2 linked regions of the Homo sapiens genome follow. The protein of the gene in region 2 purifies or fractionates together with the protein of the main gene of each other region. This does not show direct contact. Each region holds a gene or a part of one and is shown on either strand. Other genes may lie near its edges.

Region 1 (2,354 bases), on a different chromosome or scaffold from region 2:
GGAGACCAAACACAGGCACCCAGGGAGAGCGCCTGGCATAGCCACAGGGCCATTGAGATCTGCCACAGGGGGTGTTTGCCCGCTCTCAGTCGTCTCCCGAGCTGCAGAGTCCCCAGCCTGGAAACAAGGTTTCAGCATTCCCTTACATGGTAACTACGCCAGGCCCCTGCTGGGCTGAACACCTGGCTGTGGCATTCTCCTCCCTGGAGGCTTCCACTGGCAGGTCAGGCTGCAAGGAGGGAGTTCAGAAGAGAGGAGAGAACACCTCAGTGCAGGGAAGCGGCACTTGTTTTCCATCTCTTACCCAGGGCATCTTCTTAGTCACAGGGAGGGAGCGGGAGACGGGAGGTGGGAGTGTGCGGGAATTGAACAGGAAATGGGTTTCAAAGATGTGTGTGGATGTTCAGGAGAGCACAAGGGATGAAAGAGGCAGAGCAGTGTGCTGACAGCTGTGTCCCCTGCCGGGAGTTAAGGACTCCAGTGTGCAGGACACGTATGGAATTGTACGGTGTGATTCACGCATATGAAGCTATCTTCATATGAATGTGAACACTCACAGTGTTGAGGCAAAACATTCGACCTGGCTTCCATAAAGGCCTGCTGGGCCATATGGACTCAGAACCACCCTTGTCGTCTCAGAGTCCTCAGCCTCGGGCACAGACAAGGGCCTTGGTTGGAAGAATCTTGGAGTTGCCTAGAGGGGAAGGACTTACGCAGAGCAGAGAAACATAGTCTCTCACCCTTGAAGGCATCCGGCGGAGGCTTCTCTCCTTTGATTCCAAAGAATGTGCTCTGTAGATGACAGAGTGAGCATCTACAAAGGGGGAACGTCTGGTGATGGTTTCTGTGGACACATAGTAGTTAGATTCTAGAAGACACAACCAGTTAGTGACCGATCCTAAATGACAAGCATTTCTGGGTTGAGATTTAAATCCGCAGGAGCTTTACAGGAGTGCTCCTTGGTCACCTGTATCCTAGCACAGATGCCTTTGGTTTTGTGTTTTCTCCTTAATGCAGGGTAGAGAGAATAAGTATCCCCTGGGCTTCTCAGCATGGGGATCTGCACCTCTGAGAAGTTCCGGCCTTAGGGATACTGTGAATCAGACACCAGGGAAACATGAGGTTGATGACCTATTGCATTTCAATCTCATGGCTACCTATTTAGCCACGCCCCCAAATTAGGGATTTATCCCAAAAGGCCAAGACATAAAATCATATGGGCACTGCCTCCTAGCCAGGAGTTCTAGACTTGATGGAATAATCCCACATGGAATTGAGAAGCCTGTTTTGATTTTGATTTGTTTTAGCCAGAAATGTATCCAACGCTGAGCATCCAAGTCAGGCAGGCAGGTTCTGGCTTTGTTCCTTGTTCCCTAATCCAGGAAGACATGGACTTAGTGAGGCCACCAGCTTTAAATACCTCTATTAAATTCAATGCAACAGAGTATGCCAGAGCAGGTCCAGTCTGAGGAGGTGGCCTGGTTCCTTGAGTAGCTAATTCATCTGGGCATCCAAACTTATGTACTCTACAGAAATCAAAGCTCCACTGGTCATGGGGTTTCTTGGCCACAAGGGCCGAGGTAGCCAGAAAACGTATGTTTCAGAACAATAGGGAAGCTGCTGGGGAACTGTACTGCCTTGCAGTTCTCCTGCCTCCTGTGTTTGTCTCCATCTCCATACACTGGGGCAGGTTCTGCATCCCAGTGTCCTCATTGATCTCCAGTTACATCCACATGCACAGGAAGGCTTCCTGTTCCTTTGTTTGACTCACCTCCATCCATGTGGGCTGGCTTCGGCCTTGCAGGCATGTGATCCTTGAGCTGCATCTGCTCTTACCCCATCCAGATGGGGAAGAGGTCAAGTGCTCCAGGTGGAACCCAGGTGCCCTGCCCTGAGATAGAGTGATTGGCAGGATGGCCTCTGTGCCCAAGGAAGCAGAAGCAGCAGGCAGACACATTGTTTTGTCCAACAGGTTCTTTTCTGAGCCACAGGCCAAGCAGCTGGAGGGTGGGTGAGTATTTCAGGCAGGCAGTGCTCAGAAGTGGATGGGTGATGAGGCACTCAGCACAGTAGTCTGACTTTATTAAAGCTCTGTGTAGGATATTAATGAATCTGCCACCTTCTTCTTGAATTTGAGCCTGAGCCATGGCCTTTGCATGTTATGACACAGTAAGGAAGAAGGCCCAGGACACTTTAACCTGAGCCTCATGTTCTCTCCTTGCAGGGGAAGGCTTCCCGTTATCTAGTGTGTGTGTCTTGGGGATGTGGGCCATAGAACGTTCACTTCTAATGCTGGGGCTGGAACACCATGTGTTTCACTTAGAGGGATGACTCACCAGGGGCAAGGCCAAATG
Region 2 (3,373 bases):
ACTGAATGTCTAGGGACAAAGGAATTACCTATGGTTTTTTGTTTTTGAGACAGTGTCTCACTCTGCCACACAGGCTGGAGTGCAGTGGCGTGATGTCAGCTCACGACAACCTGTCTCCCAGGTTCAAGCAGTTCTCCTGAGTAGCTGGGACTACAGGTGTGAACTATCATGCCCGGCTAATTTTTGTGTTTTTAGTAGAGACGGGGTTTCACCTGGCACCGGGTCTCCAACTCTTGACCTCAAGTGATCTGCCCACCTCAGCCTCCCAAAGTGCTGGGATTGCAGGCGTGAGCCCCCGGGCTCAGCTCTGGAATTTATTAAATATGTATCTATACCCTGACACTGCTGGTTACTGTCTATAATCCGAGTGTTTTGGGAGGCTGAGGCAGGAGAATTGCTTGAGGTCAGGAGTTCGAAACCAGCCTGGGCAACATAAGGAGAGCCCATCTCTTTAAAAACAAAACACACACACACACACACACACCAAACAAACCCATGTATTTACTGCAGACCTACTTTATTATGCACCGTGATGTTTCAAGTATCACAAACCATTACAAAGCAATATAATCACCCTCCTTCCCCCTTACTGCTTCAAACTATTGTGGTAAAAATAAATAAATAAAGCCCTGGCGTGGTGGCTCACGCCTGTAATGCCAGCACTTTGGGAAGCTGAAGCGGGTGGATCACCTGAGGTCAGGAGTTCGAGAGCAGCCCGGACAACATGGCGAAACCCCGTCTCTACTAAAAATACAAGTTCGCGTGGTGGCGCGCGCCTGTAATCCCAGCGCGCCACCACGCTGGGGGACGGAGTAAGACTCAGTCTCAAAGGCATGACGAAAATAGCAAAAATGCTTTAGTGTTATACCTGTTACGAATTTAATGGAAATTACAAGTAGGAGCCCATTACAATCTCTAGCCTTAAAATGCTGAAAACATACACAGTGTGACAATAAGTAAACTTCGAGACCCAATAAGGGGGAAAGTCCAACGTGGAAAGTATTTGGTAGGAGTGAAGAACAGAGTGACAACTGCTTAGTCCCACTGGATATTTCGCTCCTCTTCAGGAAGAATACTCCAGTTTGGGGAGGCCATATCCCGGGCCAGCCAGTTAAAATCGTCAACATCGTTCCAGTTATTTTTGCTCCTATCTAAACCAGAGCTCTCGAAGTCCTTGTCGATCTCCGGGTAGCTCCAGGTGTAAGGGGCGAACTGGATCCCACTGCAGTCCTCCACGATGGCCCTGCTGGTCACCTGCAGGAAGATGCGGGTGTCTTTCGTACTGTGTATGCGGAGCTGTTGGCAGGCCACTGCCAGCACGCAGTCACTGCAGTCCTCCAGGAAAACAGAGGTAGACACCGGACCGCAGAGCAGCTTGCAGCTGTGGGCCTTGGTTAGCCGCAGGGTGTTGGGATTTCCATACAGTCTGACCGTGCAGTTGCTCAGTTCGGTCAAAAGAACGTCGCGCTGGTGCAACTCGCTGGCTCTCTTCTCCAAGACTTGGGACTCCAGGTTGGAGAAACCGCAGACCCAGCTGGGGCCGAGGTCTCCTTCCGCCTTCTTGGGCAGCGGGGAGTCCTGTATGCTTTCAACTGCCGGGGGGATGCCAGGAGCCGCGTCTACTTTGGTAGACGAAGCAGCATCCTTTCCCCGGGTCTTGAAAGCGAAACGCTTCTTGGGCTGCAGCCCCCGGCGCCGCTCGGCCAAGGCCGCCTGCAGCCGCGCCAGCGCCTCTTGTCCCTGCCGCAGGTCGTAAGCGGCTAGGAAAAAAACTGAGTCGTTGATTAGTTTCTGCAGCCCCTGGAGCCGAGAGGCCGCCTCCTCCAGCCGCTCGACCGACTCCGCGCGCTCCAGAAGCTCTTCCACGGCCGCTCGCTCCCGAACAAAGGTGGCGACGAAAAAGTGGCTGTTCTCCTTCTCTACCTCCTGGTTCTGCCGCTTTTGTTTCCGCCTTTCAACTTCCAGCTGCCGTTCTTGTTCGCGTCTCTGAAGCCGCTCAGGCACCAGGCTCAGGTCCCGCTGGGACTCCATGTCTCCGGTCCTGACAGCAGCAGCGGAGCAACTGACGGACTCCATATTGGCTTCAAGCTTCCTCTCTCTTGTCTTCCTTCCTCCGGGCGCGCTGTCCGTGAGGCCTCCCACCAACGCGTCCGGTGATTGGCCTAACATGATGATGTCAGATCCCCGGCCTTATTTTCTTCGCCTATTGGTTCCTCTGCGTCGGAGGGGGCGGGGAGATGGGGCGGGGCCGACTGACTATGGGGGTGGGAAGACAAAGGTTCTTGTGGATGGGTGGGGTGGGAGGCAGGCGGGGGAATCTTTTTTTTCCTCTTAAAGGGGCAGGACTTATATCCGGGATTGTGGGGTGAGTTGCAGCAGCGGCAGCTGCACATGTGGGTTTGTTTATAAGAACAAGGTTAGAAACTCGCAGGCCTCCCCCTCCCCCCAGCTCCTCCCTACTACCCCCTTACAGGCCGGAGATCCGCTACTAGGGGTGTGGGTGGGAGGGATGAGTGCGTGTGGTGGGTTGGGGGGACAGGTAGTGGTGAGAAAGATGGAGCGGGGGGGAATATTGCACCGCCTGGCCCGCGCCGGAGGAAGCAGCAGCTGGAACAGCTGGCTGGGGAGCCGCTTGCATGCCTCCGGTTTTTTCTTTTCCCTTCCACCACCCCTTCCCCCAACCCATTTCTGCCTCCCCGTAGCCCTCATCCTTACCGCCCCCCTCCCCCCTATCCACTGCAGTTCGGCGCGGCCTGGGGGCTCCTGGATCCCCGCAGGCAGTTACTAGGGCAGGAGAAGGCAAGGGGCACTGCGATGGGAGAGACTGGGTTCCTCACTGCAACCTGGTTCGAGGGGCCCTGGGGGAGTCCATAAAAGGATTACTATTTTTTTGGCCAATTGCTGCAGTCGGAGGGGTGGGGGCGGGGGAAGGTGAGATCCACACCCCCTTCCTCTTTCTTCCCTGCCCTCCCCGAGCTCGGTCCCGGCCACTCCCTCCGCAGCTGGGCGTCGCCGGCCGCGCTGGGGTGAGACCCTAGCCCCGGGCTCCGTGGCTCTCTGGGGCGGTCGGTCTTAGGAAAGCGGTGGGAGAAGCGGTACATTATTTCTAGGGGTGGTGGGAGGGATTTGTCACCGGAAGTGAATGGCCTAGCCTAAAGTCGGGACCAACCCGAGGTGTGGGTGGGCAGCCAAGACGGCGCAGTCACTGGCAAAAACCCGAGGCAGCGGGCAGGGCGAGAACCCGAGACGCAGCCGCTGCCCGGGCGCGGCAGCCTCGCATGCTTCGCTCAGATCTGCGGAGCTCCCGAACCTCTTTAACCCTGCCCGCCCTTCCAACCCTAGGTTTCCTCCTTATATCCCCAGTTCCCAGCCT

Evidence for each region. The genes of interacting proteins can lie anywhere in the genome.
Region 1: the proteins of TBCC (region 2) and NTM purify together in Homo sapiens (affinity purification with mass spectrometry; one large-scale study listed by BioGRID and IntAct). This does not show direct contact.

Annotation. Positions count from the first base shown.
Region 1 is NC_000011.10:132,332,615-132,334,968, forward strand, and holds part of NTM (neurotrimin isoform 9 precursor), read left to right. Parts: exon of another isoform or gene 1-149; intron 150-2,354.
Region 2 is NC_000006.12:42,743,998-42,747,370, forward strand, and holds TBCC (tubulin-specific chaperone C), read right to left. Parts: upstream 2,107-3,373; 5' UTR 2,077-2,106; coding exon 1,036-2,076; 3' UTR 501-1,035; downstream 1-500. UniProt on the Homo sapiens protein: Tubulin-folding protein; involved in the final step of the tubulin folding pathway.